2 separate regions of the Homo sapiens genome follow, and region 1 is linked to region 2. The links come from fine-mapping of genetic effects on gene expression. A gene starts in region 2. The other region holds a variant in brackets. All regions are shown on one strand. Distances are from middle to middle.

Evidence for each region. PIP is the estimated chance that this variant, and not a neighbour inherited with it, causes the effect.
Region 1: its variant is fine-mapped to the expression of EVC2 in fibroblasts (GTEx, PIP 0.90).

Annotation. Positions count from the first base shown.
Region 1 is chr4:5,752,187-5,760,186 of GRCh38, forward strand. It overlaps EVC (EvC ciliary complex subunit 1), which reads left to right. Exons shown (of 21, transcript NM_153717.3): 9 at 650-866; 10 at 1,599-1,747; 11 at 4,078-4,176. Among named protein-coding and RNA genes, the nearest start is that of EVC, 45 kb to the left of the region's middle. RefSeq lists enhancers at 758-1,713, 6,216-7,415, 7,084-7,133. The variant T/C (reference allele first, on the strand shown) is at 4,956.
Region 2 is chr4:5,703,661-5,711,660 of GRCh38, forward strand. It overlaps EVC2 (EvC ciliary complex subunit 2), which reads right to left and starts at 4,899. Exons shown (of 22, transcript NM_147127.5): 1 at 4,626-4,899. The coding sequence starts at 4,853. It overlaps EVC (EvC ciliary complex subunit 1), which reads left to right and starts at 7,541. Exons shown (of 21, transcript NM_153717.3): 1 at 7,541-7,894. The coding sequence starts at 7,721. RefSeq lists enhancers at 376-425, 486-535, 4,839-5,458 and silencers at 4,519-4,898, 4,939-4,988, 7,500-7,549, 7,600-7,749.

The DNA.
Region 1 (8,000 bases), 49 kb after region 2:
GCTCCTCCTTTCCCCCTTACTCTCATTCCACAAGCAGCTGCTCTCAGGTGTGCAGGGCCCTTGGCTGCCTCCGGTTGACATTTCCCCCTGTCTTTTCTGAGAGTCCCTGAAATGATGAGGTGGGGCTGGGGAGGGCCTTCTGTAGAATCTGACTGCGGGGAGTCGTGTTGGAAGCCAATCATTCCCCTGAAAATCTCGGCCGTCCTCAGCAGTCAGGCTCTCTGGGGCTCTAACAAAAGCCAGGAACTGCTGGCACTTTGCATTTCCTCCACAGCCCTGTGGGGGCCACAGGGCCAGATTGGCCGGGGGAGATGACTATAAGCCAGGTGGCTTTTCCTCCTTGACCGTTTGTAAATCTGGATTCCCTCCTAGGAGGGTGGCCCTCTGGGGAGCGCTACTGGTGACTAAGTGCCTACATGCTAAGCTGCGTCAGCCTCCCCGCACCCTAGGAGAGACACTTAATCCCCACCTCGGGGGCAGACGCAGATCTCGCTCATGAAGGAGAGGGGGAGTTCATCCCTCTGAGCTCCGCTCTCCCAGGCAGTGCCATTAGTTAATGACCCTGGTGGCTTCTTCTCAGCTGTTAATTAACATGCCCTGGTGGTTCCCAGGACACCCCAGCTATGGTCCTGTGTGTTTCTTTTTGCAGGACGCCCTGGAGAGGACGATGGGGCGGGCGCACATGGCAAAAGTGATTGAGTTTCTGAAGCTGCAAGTCCAGGAGGAGACCAGGTGCCGGCTGGCTGCCATCTCCCACGGCCTGGAGCTGCTGGCTGGTGAGGGGAAGCTGTCCGGGCGGCAGAAGGAGGAGCTGCTCACGCAGCAGCACAAGGCCTTCTGGCAGGAGGCAGAGCGCTTCAGCCGGGGTGAGCCGTGGGCATGGGTGCCGCCGTCCACAACACTGGCCTTCTGGGTCCCTGGGGCTGTGCAGTGAGAGGGCTGGCAGCCTGGGGCAGTGTGCCCATGATGCCGGGCACAGGCTGCCTTTCTGCTTCTGCCCTAGGGACTGGGTCACTGGGCTGCTCTCTGGGGCTCTCTTCCCTTCTCTGTACAGCAGAGTCCATGAGGGCCACTGCCCAGGGCAGGGGTCACCTGCTGCACTCACTCACCAGGGATTCCGGCTGATTGAGTCCCCACGTCCTGCAGCAAAGCCACCAGGAACTGCAGAGGGACAGAGGAGGGTGAAGGGTCTCACTAGAAATTTACACAAAGTGGTCCCTGTCGCCCAGCGGCAGCTCATGGTCATGCTGGAGTCATGTGGCCCTGCTCAGCGGCAGAGTGGGTGAGGGTGGGCCATGGTCCAGCATGTGGGGCAGGAAGGGGAGCCGTGCATGTGTCCCACACATGCTCCTGCCCCAAGGCTGACCCTGGGGTGGGGGTGGGGCAAGGCTCAAGACGTGGAGGCATCTGGGCTTAGCTGAGGTCACACTACTAGTGGGACCTACAGAAAAACCCAGGTGTGTCACCAGCAGGGCGGGCACCATCTCTGCAGCCGACACCAGCTTCCCCAACCTCCAGACAGGAGAAAGCATGAGGGTCCCCACTGAAATTCTGGCTCACAGAGTCACCTCCTATGCTGTGGCTTTTTTCAATCCCAGAGTTTGTCCAGCGAGGCAAAGACCTGGTCACGGCGTCTCTGGCTCACCAGGTGGAGGGAACGGCAAAACTCACGCTGGCCCAAGAGGAGGAACAGAGAAGCTTCCTGGCTGAGGCCCAGCCGACTGCTGACCCGGAAAAGTTTCTCGAGGTGACTCACATCCCCAGCCTCTGCACATGTGGGTGAGCCAGTTGTAGCTCTGTTCCCGTGACTGAGCACGGGACGCCGGAGGTATTCATCAGGCATGAGGTTATCTGCCTACTTCCCATGTGTCAGCCGAGTGACCGAATCTCAGTCCCTTAGCCCCTACATCCCTAGGGTCCTAGTGGACTGTAAGCTGGTGATAAGAGTTGTGCTGCCCTCACTGGGCTGCTGAGAAGAGGAGGGGGTAGGATCCGTAGAGAGCTTGGCAGAGTGCAGACGCATGGCAGGAGCACACAGATGGTGGCAATGGCGTGAAGGGAGCAATGTGTGGCCCAGAGGGGACAAGCATGTCCCGGAGAGTAAGGCAGGCTCACACACCCAGGGACAGGGCCCTTGTGGGTCGGCTGCAAGTCCAGGAGAAGGAAGGGAGTTCCCAGCCTTGCATGTGGGGTTGAGTGGTCAGGGCCAGGAGGTGGCCAAGGTCAGAGGTACCCTTGGTCTTGCCTGAGAAGGGGACAAGAAGACCTGAAGGAGGACAAAAAGCAAGATGTCACCCTCCAAGGAAAAGGAGTCAGCTGGCCCCAGTGCAGGCTCTAAGGACCTGGACTCGCCAGTTCTCAGAGAGACCACCGAGCTCTGGTTTCGCTCTGCTTGCTTTCACTAGTAATGGGCAGTGGGGCTGGGAGAGGACCAGCTTGTCCGTAACCGTCTTGCAGGCTGGTTAAGCATTGGGCGCTGAGGCCAGCCACACTTGGGTTTGGGTGCTGACTCTGCCACTAAATAGCTGGGTGACCTTGGGCATGTTGCTTACCCTCTGGCCCTCAGCTTCCACATCTGTGAAATGGGCATAATGGCACCTATATCACAGCATTGTTAGGATTCAGTGAGACCAAGGAAGGGGCAGCCCCAGCCTCACTGTTTGCCTGGGTCCGCCTGCCCTCCGTCAACACTTGGTACAGCACATCTCAGTTCTGCCAAGGGGTGGGTGGCACCATGTCTGGGTCCAGGCTCAGCCCAGAATAGAGGCCCAGGGGCTCTCCCTGGGGGCCAAGCTGGTGGTGGTGGCACCACTGCAGTGAGAAGCCAATGGAGGGGTCCCCCGAGAACAGAGGACAGGCCTCTAGGTCCCTGGTCCAGCTGCCTCCCTCACCCAGGGGGCCTCTTCCAGGCCCATACTTGGAGCTTCTGCATTTGCCACAAAGGGGTAGGGTAGGTTTTTCTATCTTTGAGACCCATTTGAAATAAGAGGAAGATAAGGCTATTCAGCTCCTCGTTATTTGGATATTTCTGGGCCCCTGTCCTTGATGTCACAGAGCCCAGTGTGAGTCCAGAGTGTGGAGACAGTGCCTGGGTGACCTTGGTGTCCCAGGGCCTCGGTACAGTCCTCGGAACGCCTCAGCGCTGGCGTTCAGGACACGTGGGACGCAGGCAGGGAAGGGTGAATGAGCGCATGCGTGCCTGAATGAACCAGGACATGGACAAATGGGCAAACGAGCGAATGAAGGAGGATGGAATGGGTGGGAGAATGAACGAACGACACCAGGCTCCCAGTACACACTCAGCACCCACCTTTTTCCAGTCCCGCCCTTCTCTCTCATCTCACCTCCTGCCCGTAGCATCACCAAAGATCTTAGGGGGTTTACCTCCTGGTCTCTGCTGCTGCTCGCTGAGCCTGGCTCCCCATCTTCCCTCCAAGGAGTCCTTCCTTGTCCTTAGAGACTCCATTGAAACATCTCCCCAACAGGGAATTTTCTCCTGCAACCCTTCCCTGAGAAGGGTCTGTTCCTCTGTCCTTCTGCCCCACCTCGCCCCTCGCTGATGCTCTGTTTAGGGCTGGCTGGGTCTCCCCCTGCTGATGCCCGGGTTAGCCCAGTCTCCTGCTGCTCTGCTGGGGTCCTCAGGGAAGGGCCTCCACCCCGTGGTCACAGTGGGGCCTGGCTGGTTGCTGACTGCACTGACCTCCAATCGCCAGTCTGTGTCACCCCTGCTGGGTTCCCATCAGTGGGTCTTCCATGGCCTGGGTGGTCAGAAAGTGATGTCTGGGTGGCTGCAGCCAGGACAGAGGAGTGACAGAAGTGGTCCAGTGGCCCCTCCTCATCCTGGCTTTAACAAAAGCGTGGTGGTTTGTGGTGTTTCCTGGAAATCGGATTTGCTGACCCTGGCATCAGCTGTGAAAGCCATGTGACAGCCCCATGCCTCAGTTTCCTTGTGTGTAATACAGGTGCCAACATCCTTCTTTCTAACCTGAGATGCAGGGGATGGTTGGAGAACCTTCTGGAAAAAAAAAAAAAAACCCTGCATGTTTCTACCAGACTCAGCTCTTGTTTTCCTCACAGGCTTTTCATGAGGTCCTGGAGAGGCAGAGGCTGATGCAGTGTGACCTGGAGGAAGAGGAGAATGTCAGAGCCACCGAGGCTGTGGTTGCACTCTGCCAGGTACATGGCCTCTGTGGGGACCAGCAGAGAAGCCCCAGGGTCTGTGTGTGTGCGAGAACCTCACATCCTCCTGGCTGGGGACCCCAGAGGTGGTTCAGGTCCAACCCCGCACTCATTGGCCGGTGATCCACGCAGGCTGTGTCCCCTCCATGCGATCCTCCTTGCCCACATCAGAAACCGAGGCAGTTGGCCTTGGTCCTCTCTGAGGCACCGTCCATTTTTGGGGTGCTGAGGATTCTTATCTCCACACATCCCTGTCAGCAAAGCTCTTTGGAAATCCGTTCTCCCCAGGTGAGAAATAGGCCCAGGGTTTCTGGGTGTCATCAGTGTAAAGTGGTGATGAAGAAGGGGTTCTGGGCTGAAATGGGGACGTCAGAGATCACATGCCACACCACCTCTTTCCCCTGTGCAACCGTGTGCAGGTCTGGGGTGGGGAGGTGAAGCTGGCCATGCTTGCCCTGCAGGGTGACTTTCAGAGAGCAGGAGAGGGCACCTGAGCCCTCTTTAGGGGCAGGAGTCACAGGATGCCATGCTGAGCCAGACAGAGCCCCTGCCTCAGGCAGCATCCTCAGTTGTTGGAAAGACAGGAGTGTGGACACCTGGCTATGAAGGAATCAACCAGTGGGTGTTGGGCAGCACTGGGAGGAGGAGAGGGCCTGGGTCTGTGTCCTGGCTCCCCGCTTCCTCACTGCGTGACCACAGGAGCATCACTTGGCCTCTAGCCCTCAGTTTCCCCATCTGTGAAATGGGGACAGTCATAATTCTTCTTCATGGTGTGC[T/C]AGGAGGACTGTGTTTGGGGACCCGAGACAGCAGCTGGCACTCGGAACACCCCAGGGCACGTTGTCTCCAGTGACAGCTTCCCTGCTTCTGAGTGCAGAGGAGAGGCAAGGGGCTCCTGGGTGAAGGTGACGTCAAGGACAGCAGCCTGTAGGAGGCATTGCTGAGCCAAGCATTGGATGAGACCAGGCCCAAGTGGACAAGGAGTCAGCGGGCATCCCCATCAGGGAGAAGCTCATGCAGTGGTGGGAAGTGCAACTCCTCACCCGGATGGGAGCTGCACTGGGGTCAGTCATGTCTCTGTTAACCTGCTAGGGCTGCCGTGGTGAATACCACTGACTGGTGGGTTAAACAACAGAAAAGCGTTCTCTCAAGGTTCTGGAGGCTGAAGCCCGAGATCACGGTGCCAACAGGATTGACTTCTGGTGAGGCCTCTCTTCCGGGCTTGCAGACAGCTGCCTTCCCGTTGCCTCCTCACACGGTTATTTCTCTGTGCTTGGAAGACTGAAGGGCAGGGGAGAGAATGAAAGAGAGGGCTCTGGTCTCTCCCTTTTCTTATAAGGACACCAGTTCTATGGGATTAGGGCCCCACCCTGATGACCTCATCTAACCTTAATTACCTCCTTAAAGGCCCTGTCTCCAAATACAGCCACATGGGATATTGGAGGTTAGAGCTTCAACATAAGAATTTGATTACTTAATTACCTCCAAATACAGTCACATGGGATATTGGAGGTTAGGGCTTCAACCTAAGAATTTTGGAGGGAGACACAATTTAGTCCAAACAGTGTCCTTCAAAACGTCATGTCCATCTGGAACCTCGGAATGTGGCCACACTTGGAAATAAGGGCTTTGCAGATGTAATTGGTTAGATCGCACAGTTGGTTAGGTCCTACTGGATTCGGGTGGGCCCTAATTCTAATGGCTGGTGTCCTTATAAGAAGGCCATGAGAAGACATAGAGACACAGGGAAGGAGGCTGTTTGAAGACAGAAGGAGGGACTGGAGTGATGCAGCCACAAGCCGAGGAACACCTGCAGCCACCAAAAGCCAGAAGAGCCCAGGAAGGGCCCCTCCCAGAGCCTTTGGAGGGGGCGAGGCTCTGCCAACACCTTGGTTTCATACTAATGCCCTCCGGAACGGTGAGAGAATAAACTTCGTTGTCTTAATGCACCCAGTTTGCGGCGCTTTGTCATGGCAGCCACAGGAAACTAAACGGAAGGCGATCTTTGTTCAGGGCTAGCTCCTATCTTAAGTGCCTCTTGAGTATTTGATTATTTAATTCTCATGAGATTCATGAGGAAGACACTGCATTTTCCTTCCTTCCCAGATGAGGAGTGAAGAAGTGTTTTCTCCAGAAATGGGTAGGATGGGGCTCAATTTGTCAAAGCCCTGGGGCCCACAGACAGGAAAGGAACAACTTTGTCCCCAGAGGAGTCAAGACTCACATCCCTGGCTGGGCATGGGGAAACCAAGTTCTAATCTTCCTCTGAGTGCTAACATGCTGTGTGACCTTGGCTGGTTACATAACCTGTCTGTGCTGGCCCATGTATCTTGCCCAGGTTTTACACAGCTAGCAAGCGGGGAAGGTGAGATTTAAAATAAAGGCTTTCTAATGTTAGTGCTGATGTGCTCACCCCAACCATGCTGCTCAGTGTTGACGGCTGTTGTGAAACCTCGCTTCTTGTGTTTTTAGTTTAAAAGTATGTAAACAAGAGACCACAGTAAAGGGGATGCAGCACAGAGCAATTTATTGCAAAGGAGAAAGAATGTTCTGAAAGTTAGGTGCAGAATAGACAGGATGCCCTGGGAGATGATTCAGAGCAGATGAGACAGCCTTGACTTACCGGGGAAACTCCCTTTCTGGGGAGTCTTATGTGATTATTCATAAGGGCGTGGGAAGAAGCATTATTAGTAAGCATGTTGTGGAGGGCGGTGGGGGCGGGTCCTCTGAGTGCCCAGGCACAGTAGCTGTACACACTTGTTCATACGTCACATGTCTCATTAGCATCTTAAGTCTCCGTCCAAAGGTGTGTTTTTTACTATTATAATGGCGCAGAGGGTCAGTCTGAGGACAGATAAAATCAAAGTGCACCTGCCGACTGCAGGAGACGTTGCCTACTGCAGATAACTGCTTGAAAGAGCCAGACTACAGTGTAAATGCTGAGGCTTACTGTGTTGATGGTTTGGTCGCCGCATCCCAAGGACATGGTCACTTCCTTGACTACCTATCCTGCCTTACGTGTGGGCTGTGGAGCATAATGGTGAAGCCCAGGCTCTGGAGCCAGACATCTGGGGTTCAAATTCCCAGCCGGGCCACTTATTTCCCCTGCCGGAGGTGAGCCCAGGTGGCCCAGAGGCTATGGGCGGCGGGGGTGGTTTCAGCAGCATTCTCCTCCTCACCCCCTATGGTAGCTTATTGGATTCTCACCCATCCTCTCTAAAGCAGTTCTCAAACCTTGCTGTGCATCAGAATGTCATCAAGATTAAGGAAATTGAGGTACAGGTTAGATCACTTGCTCACAATTACACAACCAGGCTGACAGCCTGAGTAAAACCCTATCAATGATTGCTGCAAAGGGTAAGCCAAGCAGTATATAAATGTAAACCCAGAACATCTGAGACGGGTCTCAGTTCATTTAGAAAGTTTATTTTGCCAAGGTTGAGGCTGCGCGAGCCTGGGACACAGCCTCAGGAGGGCGCGTCCTGACGACACGCGCCCAAGGGGGTCCGGACACAGCGTGGTTTTATACATTTTAGGGAGACAGGAGACATCAATCGGTACATGTAAGAAGTACATTGGTTCGGTCAGGAAAGGTGGGACAACTTGAAGCAAAGACAGGAAGACTCCAAGCGGGAAGTGGGCTTCCAAATCACAGGTAGGCAAGAGATAAACAGTTGCATTCTTTTGAGTTTCTGATTATCCTTTCCAAAGGAGGCAATCAGATCTGCATTTATCTCAATGAGCAGAGAGATAACTGTGAATAGATGGGAGGCAGGTTTGCCCTGAGCAGTTTTCAGCTTGAGTTTTCCTTTTTGCTTAGTGAT
Region 2 (8,000 bases):
TTTGAAAATGAGGATACGTTGACAAACGAGACATCAAAAGTTCTACTCTCAGAACACTATTTAGGAAAATTACAAGCAAAATCATAGTATACTATATATATTATACAAACAAAACAGTAACATACCATATATAGTATATTAGAAGGTGATAAGAACAGTGGAGCAAAATAAAGAAGGAAATAGGAACAGAGAGTAATGGGGGTTGCCATTTTAAATGGGGTTATGTTGAAAGGCTTTAACAGGGTGACAGAGTGGCTGTCAGGGTATCAGGGGGAGGAGCATTAGTTCAGGCAGAGGAAAGACCCGTGCAAGGGCCCTGAGGTGGGAACACACCCAGGGTGTTCAAGGAACACAAGGAGGCCAGGGTGCCTGAGCAGGGCGAGTGAGTGGTTTCTGCTCTGGGGACAATGGGAAGCCACCGTGAGCTACTCCGTGATGAGTGGCATAATAGCCATTTTAAATGGGACACTCTGGCTGCTCTGTTGAGAACAGAGAAGTACTCAAGGGGAGATGCAAGGAGGTCAGTCAGGCGGCTCCACAATAATCCCAGAGAGAAGGTGGCAATTCAGATGAAGATGGTGTTTGTAAAGAGAGTGAAAACTGTGTTGATTGTGGGTGTGTTTTGAAAATGAAACCCATGCGATATGCTGACTAAATGTGGGGCTTGGGGAGAGGGAGGAGGCAAGGAGGGTGCCAAGGCCTCTGGGCCCAGCAAGAAAAAGACAAAGGAACCACTGACAGGAAGGGAGGCAAGGGGCAGGATTTCGGTTCTGCCTTGGTGCATGAGTTGTGGAGTGCCTGTGAGCCTCCACGGGCCATGTCAGGTAGGCATGCAGATCCACGGTGGAGCTCAGAGAAGGTCTTGGCTGGAGATGGAAATTCGGGAGCTGCCAGGGGATAGATCACCAAGGGTGTGAGTACTGACAGAAGGAAGAAGAGAACCCAGCACTGAGTCCTGGGGTGCTCCGGCCATTAAAGATCAAGTGAAGCACAGATACACTCATGATCTCCATCTTTCCTGACCAAGCTCTCAGGAAGTTTTGTTTTGTTGTTGTTGTTGTTTGAGAGAGGGTCTTGTTCTGCCATCCAGGTTGGAGTGCAGTGGTGAGATCATAGCTCACTGCATCCTCGAACTCCTGGTTTCAAGCCATCTTCCTGCCTCAGCCTCCTGAAAACCTGGGAATACAGGCATGTGCTATCACACACAGCTATATATATATATATGTTTTGTAGAGATGGGGGTCTCACTATGTTTCCCAGGCTGCTTTTGAACTCCTGACCTCAAGCGATCCTCCTGACTTAGCCTCCCAAAGTGTTGGGATTACAGGCGTGAGCTTATTTGACTAATAGTTCCCTTAACTCAGAATTCCAAGGCTGCAGTTTTGAAGCTATAGTAATTACACAGTGTAACAGATAATGTTACATCATATCTGGCTGATTTTTTGTTGTTCTTTTCTACAAATCTGGGACACACCCAATCCACTGAACTTGGCATCACAACCAACCTAAATTACTGTTGTGTGGTACTTCAAGTAAAATAACGAAATGATACTATTAGCATAATGAAATGGTGAAAATGATGAAAGGATCCCATTCTGAAATAGACACTTATCTTTCAAAGGGTCTGGGTGGTTTCTTTCATCTCTAATTCTTGGGACATCAGATAGGCTTGCTACTGAGCACTGATTTCTCAGACATGTTGGTCTTGGGACTCCTTTACACATTTTCCAATTATTGAAGACTCCAAAAAACTTTTGTTTGTGCTGATTATATTTATCAACATTTACTCTCTTTAAATTAAAGGTGAGAATATTTTAAAGTGTCTAGTAATTCATTTTAAATAGGAATAACAATGCCATTGCATATTAACATAAATAGCATTTTTTTTTGAAAACTAAATAAACTAAAACTGTTTTATTTTCTAAAATAAAAAAAGTGAGAAGAATGGCATTTTTTTACATTTTTGCAAACCTCATCTATGTCTGAGTTAATGGAAGGAGCTGGATTCTCAAATCTGCTTGTACATTAAATCTGCTGCAACATCACACTTCCTGTCACCTTGGAAAACCCCATCGCACAATTGTGAGAAAATGAGTAGAAAAAGTAAGTAATACCTCAGTATTACTGTGAAAATAGCTGTGACTCCATGGACCCCTATAATGGTTCAGTGACGCCAGGGATTCCCTGGGCCCCACCTTAAGAACCACTGGGGAATAAAATGCATTCCCAGTGGGCATCAAATGATGAAATTAAAAAAGGTAAAATCCCTGCCCACAGGAACTCACAGTCCAGCAAAGGAAACAGACAAGCAGCCCAAACAATGTGGTAAATGTTCTCACCAAGAGATGTCCCAGCATCAGGGGGCCAGAGACTTGGAATATGCCAAGCTCCTCCTACATGCGGGCCACACCCATGACGATTCCTCCACTTGGGATGTTCTCTCCTGACTCCTTCCCTGGCTAAACCTGCCCATCCTTCAAGTCTTGACTGACCTTCCAGACTAAATGACCTCCTTCCTCCACCCTCTCTCACGGCTCCCCATCCTCCTCCTCACAGCAATCACTGTGTGCAATTAGGCATTGGTCTCCCAGCCCCCTGCACACAGCATGGGACTTAGCAAAGGTGCAATAAATATAGATAGATACATAGATAGATAGATACATAGATAGATAGATAGATACATAGATAGATAGACACATAGATAGATACATAGATAGATACATAGATAGATACATAGATAGATAGATAGATACATAGATAGATAGATACATAGATAGATAGATAGATACATACATACATACATACATACATACATAGATAATATTGAATGAATGGATGGATAGATGGTATCAAGTAATTACATGAAGGCATCATATAATTACAATAGGAAGAACTAACCTGTGCCTTCGGGAACTGTGCTCTGGGAACAGCCCTTACACCATTGCTCAGAAGAGGAAGCAGAGACCCTGAGGGCTGTGACTTGTCCCAGGCCCCACAAGAGGGAGTGGCCAAGGCAGGGACACACATGGCCAGAGCTCTTTCCTGTACAGTGTGCAGAAGGGCTATGCAAGACAGGCCCAGAGAGACGGAAGAAGGCTGGTCCCATCAACAGCTGGGATGGGCGTGGGCAGGGCCAGGGCCCAGGGGACGTGCTCAAGATGCCAAGGGCACCTGAATACAGGTGCTCATTCCCAGATTCCTGCAAAGGCAGGGGTTGCCCTTGAGGGTGAGGTACTCTACACCCACCATGGTCCTAGATGGCTTCAGGCCCTTCCCAGTAGGCACCGTCCCTCCCTTCTGGCAGGGACCACCCTCAACACCACTGTGGCTGACAGAGGCCAATGTGCACCAGGATTTCTGACACTGGCTTCCCAGAAGGAAGAGCTTGTGCAAAGCAGGTGAGGCCAGGCACGCAGGCTCTGAACTCGGGGGCCAGAGAGAGAGTACAGGACAGGCCTGGGGACGCGGCTCCCTGAGCCTTGGTTTTGTCACCTGCAAAACGGGCCAGATACTCCCATCTCACAGGGCAGATGCAAGTGAAAGGACCCAGGGAACATGTTCTGTCATTGGACTTTTGAAAGCTCAGGACACTGACATGGCGTTTTTCCAGTGAAAACCTAAAGACAGAAAGGGAGCAGGGTCTCTTTTAAGAGACTAAACCTCTGCCAGTGTCGCAAGTGTCCTGGGGTAGAGAACACAGCAGGACACGACCCACCACCCTAGGAGAGAGGTGGGAGGACCTCAGGGCAGCATCAATGGGCCAGACCATTGGCCAGGGCAGTCCTGGGAATAGGAGCCTGGGTGTGCTGTCAGGGGCAATAAGGTGGAGAGAAGAGTGCCAGCATGGGACAGGAGTGGCAGAATGTCTACCAGGACAGACCACCCCAGAGGTCTGGGGGAAAATGGATGGGAGACGTGGGAAAACCATCACCAAGGGCTGGAAGTGAAGTGGTGGGACCTGAAGCCAGGGAGTGGCAGTGGGGAGTGAGGAGGGGCAGACATCCGAGCTGATTTGGAGGAAAAGGCACTAGGACTGGTGACCAGCTTTGTCGGGGGAGGTCAAGTCTAGGGCTACAGCCAGGGATCCATGCCTTTCGAGTTTAGGACCACAGAGGGAGGGCCAGGGTGAAGTAGGAAGTGGCTAAATCCATCAGCCAGGAGAGTTCAGTCACCTAAGAGTCCAGCCAAGAGCCCCCACTTTTAAAAACCGCTGCAATTTCCCAGTGCTGGCCTCTGCAAGGGGCTCTGCATATGTGAGCTCATCTAACCCACTTCCACCCTCTGGGGTGGACGCCGCGACGGCCCCGTTTCAACGATCAGGAAACTGGGGCACAGGAGTGAACTGCCCTAGGTCGAAGCTCGTAAAATGGAGAGCAGGATTCGAACCAGGGTCGCTGGTGAAGTCCAAGCCGGCAGCTGCCACACCCCGAGGAAGGTCTCCAGTTTCCCTCGAAGCTTTCTGGCCGTGAGCGGGATACACCTAAGGGCCGCGAAGCACCCTATTCAGATCCTGCCCTCCCTTCCTCATTCTTTGCGAAATACTAAGGGTCCTCCCTGCCACCGCCGGTGTAGACAAAGTCAAACCACTACAGTCAGACCGGAGCCTGGGGTCGGGCCCTCCTTACCTGCGTGCTGCTCTCGGGCCCCGCCCCGCTCCGCCCCGGAGGGATCCTCAGGCCGGGCCCAGACCTAGGAGCCACCTGGGGATCCCGGGGTGGCTGCGCGCCGAGGGGGCGCCAGCGGGGACGTGAGCTGGCGCCGAGACAGCCTCGGCCCCCCAGCGCCAGGGCCACTGCCAGGAGACCCCCGGCCAGCACCCACGTGGGGCGCCCCCGGGAGCCCGAGGGGTCCATCGCCTGTCGGGACCCGCTACCTCAAAGCGGCGGGTGCCGCCGAGTCGCTGGAGCTTCCGGACCCCAGGCCCGCCCCGCCGCCGAGCATGCTCAGTGCGAGCCGCCGCCGAAAGTTTTCTGGAACAAACACCCGCATCTGGGGCTTGGCGGGCCAGGAGGTGCCGGACGGGCGTGGGAGGGGGAGAGCGAGTTGGCGCGGCCCAGGCGCCCGGCGGCCAGGCCTGGGTTTGCTTGCGCCCAAACCGAATCAGAGCGGGTCACTCCCCTGCTCCCCGAGGTTACCAGGACCCCAAGGGCCCCTCCGCTACCGCCTACCTGGGTCTGTAAGCCTCAGCTCAGACGCACTTCCCCTGGGAACGGTTTCCTGACACACGGATGTGAATCCAGAGTTTCCCCATCCCCGCTTAGAAAACGGAGAAGCATTTGGAGCGCGGGGCCGGGAGTCCTGGAGCACCCAGAAGGTTCAGGAAAGCTCGGGGAGGAGGGGGTGGCCGCAGAGAAGGAAAAGGACCCTCACTTCCGGTTGCGTTCAGTGCAGACCAGCTGAGCACCCACTGCCCGAGCCTGCTGTGGGTCAGCCCTGGGCCGGCCCGGGTGCCCCTCGCATTCCCAGTGGGAAACAGGCCAGCCGCTGGGCCACCTCTCTGGGGACCTAGAAAGAGGGGAGCTGGTGTCTGAAGTCGCAGCCCTAAGCAAGCTCTCCCTGAACTCTCCGAGGGGACAGGGATTTGCTTTGCCAAGGGACGCAGGAGGAGGAGGAGGAGAAAGACACAAAAAGGGGGACTGGTGGAGCCTTTTGTGTGCTTCCTCATCCCTGCCTAGGTCCTGGGTGACAGCTGACACCTGTTGACGGGGGAGGGCTCCACTCCCGCCAGCCTTCCTGCGGGGCAGGCTGTTAGGCTGTCTATAAAGTCTCAGGCCAGCGAGCCTGGCCCCTGGCAGCCTCTCTCCCCATAACCCAGACCATCCAAGGACAGGCCTTTCCTGACCTAACATGGACAAGGCCATGGGGTTCGAGAAGCTGAGAATTTATAAGCCAAGTTCCCCACACCAGGGGGTACGTGGCAGCTGTCAGGCATGTGACAAGACCACAGGCTAAATGCCAAGCATGTTGCTGGACCGTTGGAGTTGTTTGACAGTCAGTCATTTAAAGGTTAATTTAATAGTCAACAACTTTATGATAAAGTAAAAAGCAAATAACCCTACATTTAAAAAATCTCCTTAGTATTTTTTATGGAGTCAGGGTCTCACTATGTTGCCAAGACTGGTCTTAAACTCCTGGGCTCAGACAATCCTCCACTTGAGCCTCCCAAAGTGCTGGGATTACAGGCGTGAGCAACCACACCTGGCCCAAACACCACATTTTAAAAACTAAAGCCTAAGCATTCATGGAAATGTAAAACAAGAGCGTCAAGTTATTGCCCCCATACATGTCCCCAGGAACCTTGGAGATGCTTCTAAGGTAATATATAAGAAGCTCCACATAGCAGAGAGTTTGCCCTGAAGCCAGACACAGGTGTAAATGAGACAAGAATTCTGCCCCACTCCTTAATTGCAAATGAGTCACCTCTCCTCTCCAGCTGTCAGTTTCTTCATTTATTAAAAAAAGATGAAGAATTTGGATAACAGTTCCCATCTTGCCATGAGGAAATGATGAAACAAACTAGAAACAAGCTGGACATCTAGGCTGAAAGGACAAAGCCCTCCTCTGCTGAAGCAGATCCCCATGGTGTCCCCTAGCCCGGCCCACACAGGGAATTAAGCTCCACAGGGTAGGTGTGTGTGTGTGTGTGCCCCTGAGTGCAAGTGTGCAGTCGTGCATGTGCATGTGTGCTTTACCCAGGCACCCAGGACAAAAGCAAACATCTAGTAGCTACCCCATAAATGTTTGTTTAAAGCAAACACAGTGATGAACTCCTTTAATTTTTTATCACTCTAAACAACTGTGAGATACTCACTAGCCTGGACACTGCCTGGTTTGTGGCTGGCCTATCCCCCAGCCTGCAACACACACACAACAGATTCTCTCCAAGTGCTGAGTAAATGAAGGATGGTGCAGTGTCCTGGTCCTAGTGGGGAGCGGGTGTAAGGGTCTCTTTATCCATTGTCTCAGTGGGGAGTGGGTGTAAGGGTCTCTCTACCCTTGGTCCTAGTGGGGACTAGGTGTAAGGGTCTCTCTACCCATCGTCTCAGTGGGGTCTGGGTGTAAGGATCCCTTTACCCATCCTCCTAGTGGAGACTGAGTGTAACGGTGTCTCCACCCATTGTCTCGACCTTCCCTGGGACAAAATAAGATTAAAACAGGAGTCTTCGCGTGAGCAAGTTCAGAGGCGTGGAGGGCGGTGTGTTCCCGGGAAGGTTGATGGGTAGAGGTTAGGGGCAAGGGCAGGGGGTTGGAATTGCATTGATCCCAGCGTCTTCATCAGGAGGATGGGCGGAGCACCCACCGCAGAGGGTTATTGAGAAAGTTAATGAGATCATTAAGCTAAATGCGTAGCATATTCTAAGCCTCAAAAAACTTAAAGGAGCCTTCTAAGCCTCAGTAAAGTTAAAGGGGTGGAAACCGGGCCCCCCTCCGGAAGGGTCCGGGGCTGGGAGGCGCGTCTGTCTCTGGGCATGCTCAGTGCAGGGGCAGGGCTGGGGCGGGGGTGGCTGAAAGTTTTGAGCGGTGATCCAGGCTCCTCCCTCCGGCTCGGCGAAGCAGGGAAGGGGAGAGAAGCAGGAGTCGGGAGACTGCACAGGCCAGAAAGTCTGCGGAGCGGGCCGCGCCCCTGGCCCGCCCGGGCTCCAAGTCCCGCGTCGCCGCCCTGGCGGGGACGGTGCAGCAGGCGGCGGGATGCGGCGGGGCGGCAGCCTGAGCGCCCCGGATGGCCCGCGGCGGGGCGGCCTGCAAGAGCGACGCGCGGCTGCTGCTGGGGCGGGACGCGCTGCGGCCGGCGCCCGCCCTGCTGGCCCCCGCCGTGCTGCTGGGCGCCGCGCTCGGCCTCGGCCTCGGCCTTTGGCTTGGCTGCCGCGCGGGCCGCCAGCGCACGCGACACCAGGTGGGTCGGCCGAGCAGACAGCGGCGGGGCGGGGAGCGCGGGGCGCGTGGCTTCTGGGTCCTGCGGGCCCGGAGCCCCGGCTCTGCGACTCCTTGAGCCTGGTTGG